2 linked regions of the Homo sapiens genome follow. The protein of the gene in region 1 interacts with the protein of each later gene in a pairwise test. Each region holds a gene or a part of one and is shown on either strand. Other genes may lie near its edges.

Evidence for each region.
Region 2: the proteins of TCF25 (region 1) and DERL1 interact in binary tests that used the Homo sapiens proteins (3 or more experiments, as listed by UniProt).

What each region holds. Positions count from the first base shown.
Region 1 is NC_000016.10:89,904,578-89,911,602, reverse strand, and holds the end of TCF25 (ribosome quality control complex subunit TCF25), read right to left. Parts: intron 6,666-7,025; coding exon 6,507-6,665; intron 5,410-6,506; coding exon 5,319-5,409; intron 4,361-5,318; coding exon 4,281-4,360; intron 1,013-4,280; coding exon 940-1,012; intron 524-939; coding exon 365-523; 3' UTR 224-364; downstream 1-223. UniProt on the Homo sapiens protein: Component of the ribosome quality control complex (RQC), a ribosome-associated complex that mediates ubiquitination and extraction of incompletely synthesized nascent chains for proteasomal degradation.
Region 2 is NC_000008.11:123,025,286-123,032,310, forward strand, and holds part of DERL1 (derlin-1), read right to left. Parts: intron 5,472-7,025; exon of another isoform or gene 5,432-5,471; coding exon 5,320-5,431; exon of another isoform or gene 4,945-5,319; intron 488-4,944; exon of another isoform or gene 438-487; intron 1-437. UniProt on the Homo sapiens protein: Functional component of endoplasmic reticulum-associated degradation (ERAD) for misfolded lumenal proteins. Forms homotetramers which encircle a large channel traversing the endoplasmic reticulum (ER) membrane.

The sequences.
Region 1 (7,025 bases):
ACGTGCACCCAGGGCCTTGGCATTCAGCAGGGACCTGCACTGAAGACCCCGTGGGGCCCCTTCTCCACCCGTGCCCAGATCCTGGGAGCACAGGAAGCATGGGGTCTGGGCCCCACCTCACCCACAAGCCACTGGGAGGAGAATGGACTGAGTGTGATTCGAATCCGAGGGCATGGGACGGCGCTCAGTGCCTGCGAAAGGAGAAGGTGCGGACGGCAGAGCGTGACCCATTTACATTTATAGGAGAAACAGTGGACCAGGGAGCGACACACTCAGCTTCCCTACTTCAGGCAACTGGCCGACTCCGACCAACAGAGAAATCGGGAACATCATCATACGGCTTTTCGGTCACCTCTGCGGACGCTCAGTCCCACTCCCCCTCCCCCTCAGCGTCGTCCTCGTGCGGCGCCTCCAGGTCGTTGAGGTGGAAGTTGGCCATCATGTCGCGCACAGCCAGCATCAGCCTGTTCAGGCCCTGGTTGCGGTTCAGACCCCCAGCCACTCCTTCCTCGGGCCTCTCCCCCTGCAGCAAGGGGACATGTCTGAGAAGGGGGCTGTCTGTGCTGGGACTAGGGGCCCGGGGCCCAAGCAGGAGGCACTGTGGAGCCCGAGGTGGCCCTTGCCCCAGCACCGGACCCTGAACCCTCCCCAGGTCCCTGTGAGGAGGAAGCTCTCAAAACCAAATGCCGTGTCTAGACCAAGCCAGGCACAGAGTGGGATCAAGCCGGCTGACTCACGGCCCTGCATCTGCTACCATCTGGGCAGGCCCCAGTTTCCCCGGCAGAATGGGCACCCCACTGGCACAATGCAGCCTTGGTCCTTCCCTGCTCCCTGTGCCGGCTGGCACAGTCCTGGTTCAAGGAGGCTCCAGGCATTCGCACTGGAATGGATATGCCCGCACCCACTGGGGAGGCAGGGGCTGGGACGAGCTCAACCTACCTCCATGGTATAGTTTGGCAACAGTGACCGGAAGAAGAGAGCAATGGTGTTTCCATGGCTGATAGGACTTAGCCTGAAAGAAAGTCAAGAAAAGTCAGAAACGACACTGAACTGAGACTCGTGGGACCCAACCCGGCTCACGGGGCTGCCTGCCAGCTGCCTCCCTCGCAGGGACACGGAGGGGCCGCCAGGGGGCAGAGCAGCAGCAGCTGAGCACAGGCCCTGGATTCCCCGGGTGGCCCGTGAGGCTTCCTCATCAGCTTAGGGTGGGGCTGTGGACAGCGGGAACAGGATGAGGGAGACCAACTCAGCTGAGGCAGGCGTGGCGTCCGGAGCGAGGCTCCCACAGCCATCCTCGGCCACTGCACAGGTGCCTTGCTTTTCAGAAAAGCTGCAGTTTCAACGTCTCCTTCAGCACCCACTCCTTACGCAAAGGCAGAAGCTTCCAGGGCCTGCGTTAAGCGGAGACCCTCACGGTGCGAAGGGCTACCGGCCCGGCTCTACAGGACGCTGAGCGGCCAGGCCTCAGGAGCTCTAGGGAGGGCGAAAGCCTGGGCTCCACAGCGGAGGGAGGCAGCAAAGAACCGCGATTCCTCAATGCTGCAACACCCTGCCGGCAGGGATAATCACGACGACCGCTGTGCGGGTGACGGGGCCTGGGTAAGGCAAGTACTTTCCAGCCCAGAAGGAAAAGGTAAAAAGCCTTTCAATGACCCGGATTCTGAAAGCCAGACACACCGGCCGCCTGGCAGTTGGCCCTCTTGCGCCGCAGCCCTGCTCTCCCGGTCTGGCCATGGGGCTTTTGTTCTCTCAATGTGCCGTGTGCTCTGCTCCTGGCACAGGGCCTCGGCACATCGTGACTCTGCTGGGGAACACAAGGACCCTCTCCCCTGAGCCTGGTGAGGGCACATTCATCCTCTCCGTCTCAGCACAGCCACCATCCTTCCTCCAAACACCTTACTGGAGGATTTTTTTTTTTTTTTTTTTTGAGATGGAGTCACTCTGTCACCCAGGCTGGAGTGCAGTGGCGTGATCTCAGCTCACGGCAACCCCCTCCTTCCGGGTTCAAGGGATTCTCCTGCCTCAGCCTCCTGAGTAGCTGGGACTACAGGCACAACCCACCACGCCCAATTTTTTTTTTTTTTTTTTTTTTTGAGACGGAGTCTTCCTCTGTCGCCAGGATGGAGTGCAGTGGCACGATCTCCACTCACTGCAACCTGTGCCTCCCGGGTTCAAACAATTTTCCTGCCTCAGCCTCCCAAGTAGCTGGGACTACAGGTGTGCGGCACCACGCCCAGCTAATTTTTTTGTATTTTAGTAGAGACGGGTTTTCAGCACGTTGGCCAGGCTGGTCTCAATCTCTTGACCTTGTGATTTGCCCACCTTGGCCTCTCAAACTGCTGGAATTACAGGCGTGAGTCACTGCACCCAGCTGGCTAAGTTTTGTATTTTTAGTTGAGACGGGGTTTGCCATGTTGGCCAGGCTGGTGCAGTTTTGATTTTATGTTTATTTCTACATTCTAAAATTAATATGTTTTCCCCACTTCACTGCACACCTGCTTCCACTGTGTCACTCGCACCTGCCACAGAGGCCGACACGCAAGCGCTTGTACATTCGGTGGAGATGGGAAAGAACGTGGCCTGCAAACGCAGAGCTGTGACCCCCAAATAACACTGTTCCTCTCCTCCTCTCCCTTCCTGTGAGGGGAAAGACCCACTTAGCCCTGAGCCCCATCTCTCAGCATCTGGGTCTGAAAGAGGCAGCCAGTCCCTGTGAGCCCCAAAGCCCTGACCTCAGAGCTGCAGGAGAGAGCTGGGAGCTGCGAGGTGGGAGCTGGGAGCTGGGAGCTGCGAGGTGGGAGCTGGGAGGTGGAAACTGGGAGGAGGGAGGCGGGAGCTGGGAGCTGGCAGGTGGGAGGCAGGAGCTGGGAGCTGGGAGGCGGGAGCCGGGAGGTGGGAGCTGGGAGGCGGGAGGTGGGAGCTGGGAGGAGGGAGGTGGGAGCTGGGAGGTGGGAGCTGGGAGGTGGGAGGTGGGAGCTGGGAGGTGGGAGCTGGGAGGAGGGAGGCGGGAGCTGGGAGGTGGGAACTGCGAGGAAAGAGGTGGGAACTGGAAGGTGGGAGGAGGGAGCTGGGAGGTGGGAGCTGGAAGGTGGGAGGTGGGAACTGCGAGGAAAGAGGTGGGAGCTGGCAGGTGGGAACTGGGAGGTGGGAACTGCGAGGAAGGAGGTGGGAACTGGAAGGTGGGAGGTGGGAGCTGGGAGGTGGAAACTGGAAGGAGGGAGGTGGGAGCTGGGAGCTGGAAGATGGGAGCTGGGAGGTGGGAACTGTGAGGAAAGAAGTGGGAACTAGAAGGTGGGAGGAGGAAGCTGGGAGGTGGGAACTGGGAGGAGGGAAGAGGGAGCTGGGAGGTGGGAGCTGGGAGGTGGGAACTGAGAGGAGGGAGGCGGGGTTGGAAGGTGGGAACTTGGAGGAGGGAGGCGGGAGCTGGAAGGTGGGAGCTGGGAGGAGGGAGGCAGGAGGTGGCAGGGGAGGTGAGAGGAGGGAGGCGGGAGCTGGGAGCTGGGAACTGGGAGGAGGGAGGAGACAGGGGCTGTAAGGTGGGAGGCGGGAGCTGGGAGGTAGGAGGTGGGAGCTGGGAACTGGGAGGAGGGAGGCGGTAGCTGGGAGGTGGGAGGCGGGAGCTGGGAGGTGGGAGCTAGGCGGCGGGAGGAGGGAGGTGGGAGCTGGGAACTGGGAGGAGGGAGGCAGGAGCTGGGAGGTGGGAGGCGGGAGCTGGGAGGTGGGAACTGGGAGCTGGGAGGTGGGAATTGGAAGGAGGGAGGAGGGAGGTGAGGTGGGAGGTGGGAGGAGGGAGTTGGGAGGTGGGAGCTGGGAGGTGGGAGGTGGGAACTGGGAGGAGGGAGGCGGGAGCTGGAAGGTGGGAGGCGGGAGCTGGAAGGTGGGAGGCGGGAGGTGGCAGGTGGGAGGTGAAAGGAGGGAGGTGGGAGGTGGGAGGAGGGAGCTGGGAGCTGGGAGGTGGGAACTAGGATGAGGGAGGCGGGAGCTGGGAGGTGGGAGCTGGGAGGTGGGAACTGGGAGGAGGGAGGCAGAAGCTGGGAGGTGGCAGCTGGGAGCTGGGAGATGGGAGGTAGGAACTGGGAGGAGGGAGGTGGGAGGTGGGAGGAGGGAGGTGGGAGCTGGGAGGTGGGAGGTGGGAGGAGGGAGGTGGGAGCCAGGAGCCGGGAGCTGCTAGGTGGGAGCTGGGAGCTGGAAGGTTGGAGCTGGGAGGTGGGAGCTGGGAGCTGGGAACTGGGAGGAGGGAGGTGGGAGCTGGGAGGTGGGAACTGGAAGGAGGGAGGTACCTCTCTGGCCTGACGTAGGAGTAGATTGTGTCCGAAGGAGGCAGAGGATCAAACCCCATCACAGACTGCGTGGTCACGTCCTTCAGAAAGGGACATAAAACGAAGATGCTACAGATGCTGCCAGGGGGCCTCTACCTCTCCCAGCAGAGTCCTTCTGTCGACTCCAGCATGGACTGGATGCATCTGCTGAGAGATAGCCACAGAGTCTGACAGAAACGGCTGTGCTTTTTGTACCAACGAGCTTTGGGTGAGGGTGGGACAGTCCTTCTGCCACCAGGACACTCACGGGAGTCGAGATGAACCTGCACGGCGTCTGCCCTGCACACCAGAGTGTGTGGTGGGGAAGGAAGGGGGTCACGTGCCGCTCAAGCCTGCCAACATCTTCACCACGTGTCAGAAGCTCCCACTTCAGCAAATGCAGGCTACAGGGACCCTGAGCTGCCCTCGGGTTGCACAGTGCCACGTGCTGCCACTCTACTGAGGAGAGTCAGAAGCTCACAGCCCCAGACAAAGCCAGCCATGCCGGTCATAAGGGCCCGCAGAGCAGCTGAAGTTAAACCAGGAGGCACTAAGCTGTCCCCAGTGGACGGTCCACGGTCCTGCGACCCTCTGACTTGCTGGTTTTCTCACTCGTTCTATCTTATCCCTTAACAACAGTACAAACTCCTTAGGTTTTGAGACAGAAACGGCACCTCCAGCACAGGAGGCGTCAGAGCAGGACTACACCCCACGACTACAGAGAATCCCCCAGCAGCCGCACCACGCGCTCACAAGACCACGGATGGAGCAGCTCACCACGGTGACGACTCAGCTTGTGCTCTGAGCCCCAAAGGATTTCTCTCTCAAAACAACAAGCATCCGAACCCGGGCTGCCAGGAAAGGAGGAGCCCTCTGCACTAGACCCTGCCCCTGCCGTGGCGGGGCTGGGCTGCTGAGGGAGCCCGCACCACGCACGCCTGCATGTGGACCGCCCGGAGCAGAAGGGACGTGCATGTGACCGGCTTACACAGAGCTCCCATTTCAGCCTTTCTCCCTTACCGGGGGCAGGGCAGCGACGGCTTCCTTGATCTCAGAGAGGATCACATGGCGGTGGATATTCCTGGGTGCACGCTGGTAGAGCACCTTCCGCCTAGGGCCGGGGAGAAACAAGGCACAGCAGATAAAGCACAGCAAATGAAATGGTAACCGCCATGGAGCCTCGGCCCCCACCCCCACCCAGCACGAGGCATCTCGCTGCATCTCTGGTGGCTGCAAAAACTGTACACTTTACTCTCGAGCAGAGGCACCATGGCTGGTCCCTGGCCTGCGGCTGGGGAGCCTCTGGGGACCAATCCCAGCCACATGGCCAGTGACTCAGCCTCTTCATCCAAAGAACAAGAACGATGAGAGCCGTAGCCAGTGGCTTCTTGTGGGAAGTCACTGAGTTCATCTCCATGAAGGGACACCTGGGTGTGTCACCATCGTCACTGCTACGGCTACAGGCACAGGCACTGGTCCCTGCTGGAAATCGCTCTTGGAGAGCAGTACAGGGAACAAAATGCTCCTGTCCATGAGAATGTCCAGTCCAGTGGGGACAGCAGACACGCGGACGGGCCCATGACTGCCAGCGGCTGGGGGCACCAGCGCCTCTTGGGCACCCCCGGGCACACCTCATGTCCGCGGCACACAGACTTCACTGTGGAGATGCAAATGGGCACCACTCCCAGGCGGTCCTGAGCCTGGCCACACCACTGCACAGAGCCACGGTGCTGATGCACAGAACTAGCACAGGGCCAAGGGCGCAGACAAACGAGACAAGAACAGCAAGGGGATGCCTGTCAGTTGCAGCATATTAGGGCATGAGCCTCCGAAGTGTTCACACACAGGACAGGAGACTCTTTCTCGTCTCTGCCAGATTTCTTTACTCCCAAGATGCTGCTGTGAGAGACTCGTCATCATCTCACAGCTCATGTGGAAACACTGCAAGACCCGAAGGCACCACTCCAGCCCGAGGCACCCGGGAACAGCAGCTCGGTACCCTGCGCTGATCACCACAGCTGCCTCCCAGGAAGCCTCTGGGACACGCCAGGGGCTGTGCGCTGTCTTGTAGGCTCCACACAGGCCCCACAGCAAGGGAGGCCAAGCTGCTCACAGCCCTTCTCGCCTCCCGAATGCGAGGCCCCCGTGTCTGGGATGAGGGTCCCTGAGGAGGGGGCGTGGCAGGGCTTGTGTCAACCCCTAGCTCACCGGTTCTCACAGGCTTCCACGGCTGGGTCCCCGGCGTCCACTGCTTGCAGAACCTCGTGGACGTTCTCCTCCAGCCAGCTCATGGTGGCGGGCTCTTTCCAGAGAAAGTGTGACCTCCCAAGGTACAGGTTCACCAGCTGGCTCAGGGCAGGGGGCTGGCTGGGGGAGAGCAAGGGCTCTGAGCAGAACCCCTCTTCAGACCACAGCCTGCCTCGAGGCTGGCAGAGCCCCATGGATGGGCAGACGGGGGGTCCAGGGAGTGCCCTGTGGCCTGGAGTGAAAGGAGGCCCCTGGGCTGCTGGCCTGAGGGCGTGGGGCTGGGGCACACAGGTATGTGCCGTGAGCCTGTTGGGCAGGTTATGTTCTTTAGGAAGCAGGACTGACGTCACAGAAATGTGAAAATGCACCCAGGGCGGGTCCATCTGCGTGCACACAGGGCGAGCCCTGGAGGGCCAGGGGATGACCCCAAGGCGTGCACTTTCTCCTGTGTTTGCTCCCTCTTTGTTTATTTTGTTTTTT
Region 2 (7,025 bases), on another chromosome or scaffold:
TGACATGCTCTGACTACCACAGGCTAAAACAGACCCAGAGAAAGTACAGTCAATTCCACAGCTTCTGAGCCCTGTATCCCAAAGACCAGTGAGGCCCCCCAAGCTCCCTCCCAGCCTGTCAGCCTTTCCTTCTTGGCTCTCGCCATGACCTGATGGCCGCATTCTGGATTACATGCTTGATCCCTGTCCTCCTCCACTAGACCGTTAAGTTCTGTCAGAGGAGGAACCATGCCTGTTTTGTCTCCATTGTGTCTCCTCCAGCATGGCTATGCTGGGAGGTACTTACCATTATTATTAGAAACACACATACACACACACAACCACCTGTACCACACTGGCCTTAGATACTGAAAAAGAAAGTCTCTGTCTTCCAGAGACGTACATTCTACCAAGGGAAAACAATGTGGGGGAAGGAGGGAATAAAGCGTCAGCCAAACCTTTCCATAGCCTCTGACTCAGTCCTCATACTGCATCTGGAAGGGAGAATGGAAAGACCTACGACCTGCTTCTTACAGATGCAGAGTTAAAGTCACATGACCAAAGTCACAGAGCTTGTTAGAACCAGAGTGACATCAAATTACTAGCACAGTGCTCCTGTCACTGCGCCATATGCCTTATTGGGCAGAATAATCAACAACGGCCTCCCGTGTAAGCATAATTCCTAATGCCTTCAGTTAGAAGACTTTAACAGAAGAAAAAAAAAAAAAGAAACAGAAATGACTGTAAGATCACTCTAGCTTGAAAGTTACTTTCCCTCCCCGTTCCACACCCCCTCACAGTTACATGATACAGCTAGTCAATTTAAAAAAAGAAACCCAACAAGTGTCAGTAAGGCAAAAAGATATAATTAAAAGAAAATAGGTTTCCAGCAAAAGTGTCTTCTACTCTCCTTTATTTCTCCCTTGATACCTCAAAGCACACTTCAGCCACAGTGTTAAGCAGGCCTAATGCTAGAGGATCACAATGATGAATCACAGCTGAAATTCTAACACAATTTCCCGATTTTAATAATAGCTGTGCTTCTTTTGATGTGGCTTTGGCTGTCTGATTCCTAAGGAGTCTTTAGACTGAGTACTTAAAATATTGTAATCATATAAATTACAGCACTATATTATCTGACATGCTTGCAACTGAGAATTTACAAATTAACTGGTTTCAAATTACAGTCTTCCAGTTCAAATCAGAAACCTCAAATAAGCCAACTCTGCTATATAACTAACAATTTAGCCAGGCAGGAAAATGTGCAGGTGGCAAACATTTTGTCAAGATGTTAACTTAAAGCTGTGTGGTTGACAGAAAACTGGGGATCAGTGAACCTGGGTTCCAGTCCTAACTGCGTTAACTCAAAGAGCTCTGCAACTTTTGGGACACGTCACCACCACTCTAGATCACTGTTTTCTTATCTATGAAATAAGAGTGTTAAATAGAATGATCTCAAAAGTTCCTCTCTACACGTTCATAGCAGCTATTATTCACAATGGCCAAAAAATGAAACCAAGTCAAATGTCTATCAACTGATGACTGAATAAACAAAATGAGGTATATCCATACGATGGAATCTTAATGGTAATAAAATGGAATGAAGTACTGATACAGGCTATATGGAAGAATCTTGAAAACATTATGCTACGTAAAAGACATAAGTCACAAAAGGCAACAAGATACTGTATGATTTTAAGAAATGCCCAGAACACGCAAATCTAAAGAGTCAATAAGATCAGTGGTTTTGGTCAGGTACAGTGGCTCACGCCTGTAGTACCAGCACTTTGGGAGGCTGAGGTGGGCGAATCACTTGAGGTCAGGAGTTTGAGACCAGCCTGACCAACATGGTGAAAACCTGTCTACTAAAAATACAAAAATTAGCCAGATGTGGTGGTGCGTGCCTGTAGTCCCAGCTACTCAGGAGGCTGAGGCATGAGAATTGCTTGAACTCGAGATGCAGAGGTTGCAAAGAGCCAAGACAGTGCCACTGCACTCCAGCCTGGGCGACAGAGTGAGACCCTGTCTCAAAAAAAAAAAAAAAAAAAAAAAAAATTTAGTGGTCTCCTAAGGGTGTGGGGGAGGAAGGGATTGAATGAAAAGGGAGAATGGCTGCTAATGGTAGGGTTTCTTTTGGGGGTGGTGAAATATTATAAAAATGGGTGTGATAATGACTGTACAACTCTGTCAATATACTAAAAACCAATGAATTGTGTATACTTTAAATGGGTACGTTGTACCGTACATGAATTACATCTCAATAAAGCTGTTAAAAAATGCCTCTCAGCTCAAGCCTTTCAAAATGCTCTGTAGTTGTTGAGTAGGGAATGAGGAGGCAACTTATAAAAATCAAAGCAAATAAAAGAGACCAGTGACCTAATAATCCCACAAATTTGTCCTAAATTGGTATTCAGAGAGAATAACATTACAATTTGTTGTATTACCTGACCAGGTAATAGGGTTGGGTAAAGGGATTCAAAGCACAAGAAGGCAATTAAAAATAAAAGTGGCCATTGGCCAGGTGCAGTGGCTCACGCCTGTAATCCCAGCACTTTGGGAGGCTGAGGCAGGTGGATTACCTAAGGTCAGGAGTTTGAGACCAGCCTGGCCAACATGGCGAAATGCCATCTCTACCAAAAACACAAAAATTAGCCAGATGTGGTGGCATGCACCTGTAATCCCAGCTACTCGGGAGCCTGAGGCACAAGAATCACTTGAACCCAGGAGGCAGAGGTTGCAGTGAGCTGAGATCACGCTACTGCACTCCCCCGACTGGGTGACAGAGTGAAACTGTATCTCAAAAAAAAAAAAAAAAAAAAGTGGCCATGGAATTATTGCAATTTAGGTTTAATAATAGCATTAGAATTATGTTTTAAGTCCTTATAGTTCAGAGTTAAATTCTGAAATATTTACAAATGAAATGCCTGGCATTTTGCTTCAAATAATCAGGGGTGGAGGACAGCAATAGATATAAATAAAACAAGATTGGCTATGAGATAACTATTAGAGGTGATAACCATTAGATGGTTAAGGAGGGGTTCGTACTGACACACACTATGACAGGAATGAACCTTAAAAACATTGTGCAAAGTGAAAGAAGCCAGTCACCAAAGGACATATGAAATGTCCTGAATAGGTAAATCCATATACACGGAAAGTAGATTAGTGGTTGCCAAAGGCTGGGAGGAGGGAAAGTGGGAGGTAAAGAGTGACTGCTTTGGCTTTTTTAGGGAATGATGAAACTGTTCTGGAATTAGATTGTGGTGATGGCTGCATAACATTGTGAATATACTAAAGACCACTGAATTGTACACCTTAAAATGGTTAAAATGATGAATTTTATGTTATGTGAATTTGGTCTCAGTAAAAAGAAAAAAGGTTCATTGACTTTTCCCTCCACTTTTGCATATGTTTGAAAATTTTCCAGAATAAAATTTTAAATAACTGATCATAAATGATCCACACTTAATCTATTTTACTATTGATATAACGTTTACTATCAATATAAAATAATTACTCCAGCTGGGCACAGTGGCTCACGCCTGTAATCCCAGCACTTTGGGAGGTCAAGGTGGGCAAATCTCTTGAGCCCAGGAGTTCAAGACCAGGCTGGGCAACATGGTGAAACCCCATCTCTACAAAAAATACAAAAGTCAGCCAGGTGTGGCGGTTTAACACCCATCCTTGTAGCTACTAGGGAGGCTAAGGTGGGAAGATCACTTGAACCCCGGCAGTCAAGGCTGCAGGGAGCCATGACTGTGCCACTATACTCCAGTCTGGGTGACAGAGCAAGACCCTGTCTCAAAAAAAAAAAAAATTACTCTAACAAATTAATGCTCAATTAAGTTATACCAGAAAGGCAGACTGCTAAGCACTCAGTATCATTATGGGTCCAACTGGAACAAAGGAGAATAAAAATCACATATTCTGGTAGATTTAAAGATCAAACCCCTAATATGGTGGTGAGAGGCCTAGTTGTCAGTTTCATTTCTGCCAAGTTACTTTACTTCCTTGAATCTCCTATTCATCTTTTGGTAAAACTCAGGAAATAAACTAGGTTCCTCCCAATAGTAATATAATAGTCTATGACCTTACACTTTGTATTAATACAATTTCTTTCTTTTTAAAAAGAACCTAAAAGCAAATGCCAATTTAAGGAAAAATGTTACTTGACATCAAATACCCATCCTACTATTTCCCTGCAGTGATGAGACTGATTCGCAATTCTCAACCATATGAGCACTGACTTACATACACTTAAGGGTAGTTCAGAGTTCTCTATCCTGAGGTAACAGCCAGCAAGTTTATAAAGTCTCTGAAGTCAGTCAGCCTTTTCAAAGTCATTTAAATTTAACAAAATTATATCCATATTGTAACACAGTGTATTGATGTATTGTTTCTTTAGTATAAGTGACTCAGACAGCATATAAGGTATTGTAGGAAATAAATGACAATTCAGTAAGACACTTTTACGAAAAGATTTTTCGAACTTATCCATAATATTACATAGGTTGGCTGGGCACGTTGACTCACACCTGTAATCCCAGCACTTTGGGAGGCTGAGGCAGACAGATCACTTGAGGTCAGGAGTTTGAGACCAGCCTGGCCAACAGGGTAAAACCCCATCTCTACTAAAAATATAAAAATTAGCCGGGTATGGTGGCAGGTGTCTGTAATCTCAGCTACTCAGGAGGCTGAGGCATGAGAATTGCTTGAACCCGAGAGGCAGAGGCTACAGTGAACTGAGATGGCACCACTGCACTCCAGCCTGGGCAACGGAGCAAGATTGTCTCAAAAAATAAATAAATAAATAAAATAAAATATTACATTGGTACTCATACCTGATAAACTACCATATATTATTAAATCTTGGCTATATACTGTATTTTAGAGTTGAGTTTTTCAATTAGAGAATAAATCTAGGCTTTTAATTACATAAATTGATGTTTTTCAACCCCAATCTAGGAGACATATATACTCCAGCCCAATTCTGCACTGAAGGACAAGGACTGCTGCAAAAGAAATGAGTGAGACCCTCAAAATAAATGAAAGGCACACAGCTCAGCCACTAAGGAGATGGACAAGCCATGTCAACCTCTGATCTGCTACTTTTTGCATCTATAAAATGGTAACACTGCTACTTATACCTCAGGATGTTGTGAGGATTAAAAATTGAGTAAGCTAAGTGCCTGGTGCAGTCCTGGCACAGTCACTAAGCATTTACTATCTTTATGCAGTTTCTTTTTGTAATGCTAACTGCCCTCCAAATTCCTCCAAAGTAAACACATGGATTAGTAAATGAGAAAGAAACAATGCTTAAAACAACTATGGGTAACATACCTGTTTCAAGTCGCGTAGAATACTGATATAAGAAATATAAATTGACCAAATAAAGAAATCCAGTTCCTGGACCCACAGGGAAATAAAAGGTGGCAGTGATTGGCCTCCAAATCTGTCCAGATCAAAATAAACACAGCTGTTAGTTTCTGTAAGCCTGGTTATTTCTTTCCCTTCTAACTAAACAAAATTAACAAAGCATCCTCCTCAATGAGAGGTGTGAAAGTGATCCTACCAACACAACTCAAGAAAACAACTGAAGAAAAGTGTTCACACCAAATACAATCACATCACTTTGCAAATCAATGGAATAAAACGACATCATAAAATAAGCAACAAATATTTCTAAACAAGTTGAAACAAAATCAATACTATATGAGTATATGGTTAGTCTTTGCTGAGATCAGGCATACAATTAAGCCTACATCAAAAAATGAATTACAAAGGCTTAATTTCCAACAGTACAGTAATGCCTCTATTTAGGGAAAGAATATTCTGGAATGACAAACCTTGTCCAAAAATGCCACATTCAAAGGCAGAAGTAAAACAACAATTTTTTATTCAAACCAATGCACTAAATAGGCAATAGGGGCACTTTTTCTTTAAAAACATTTCCCTGAAAAAACAAACAAAACATAAGAAGGGTCTAAAGTAACAAGCAGGCCAGGTTCGGTGGCTCATGCCTGTAATCCCAGCACTTTAGGAAGCTGAGGCAGGCAGATCACCTGAGGTCAAAAGTTCAAGACCAGCCAGGCCAACATGGTGAAACCCTGTCTCCAATAAAATTACAAAAATTAGCCAGGTGAGGTGGCGGGGGCCTGTAATCTCAGCTACTCGGGAGGCTGAGGCAGGAGAATCGCTTGAACCCAGGAGGCGGAGGTTGCAGTAAGCCAAGATCGCGCCACTACACTCCAGCCTGGGTGACGAGCGAAACTCCGTCTCAAAAAATTAAATTTAATTTAATTAAAATAAATTAAATAATAAAGTAACAAGTAAGCCTCATTCCCAACCTCCAGTCTCCCAGTTCCCCAACAACAGCTGATCAGTGTCTTGTATTTCCTCTAAGAAATACATGTTACTATTACTCATTCTTCTTTATCCTACTCTATACGGCACTGTTTTATACCTTGGTTCATTCCCTACAAAATATTTTAATTGGCTTCATAGTATTCCTTGTATGTGAATGTCTAAACTTTTGTTTAAACTGTTACAATGCCACAATGAATATTCTTGTATATCCTCTTTATATGTGCATATACAGAATAAGTTCCTGTCAATAAATCTGCTAGAGCAACAGACATAACCATTTATTTTGGTAGATACTGCCAAATGCCTACAAAAATGTTTGCTCAATTTATACTTCCTCCTAAAAAGTAGATGAATCCTGTCTTCTCTCCATACTCTCACCATTTCATGTATTATATATTCACCAATCTGAAAACTAATTTTTATTTGCATTATGAGAAGTCAAGCACCTTTTCACGTTTTAAAAACCTGAGCATTTCCTTTATTCATTTGTTTTTCTGGATTTACATTTTTTTTTTCCCCCCCGAGATAGGATCTTGCTCTGATGCCCAGGCTGGAGTGCAGTGGCATGATCCTAGCTCACTACAACCTCCACCTCCTGGACTCAGGTGATTCTCCCACCTCAGCCTCCCAAGTAGCTGGGACTACCAGCATGCACCACCACACCTGGCTAATTTTTATAT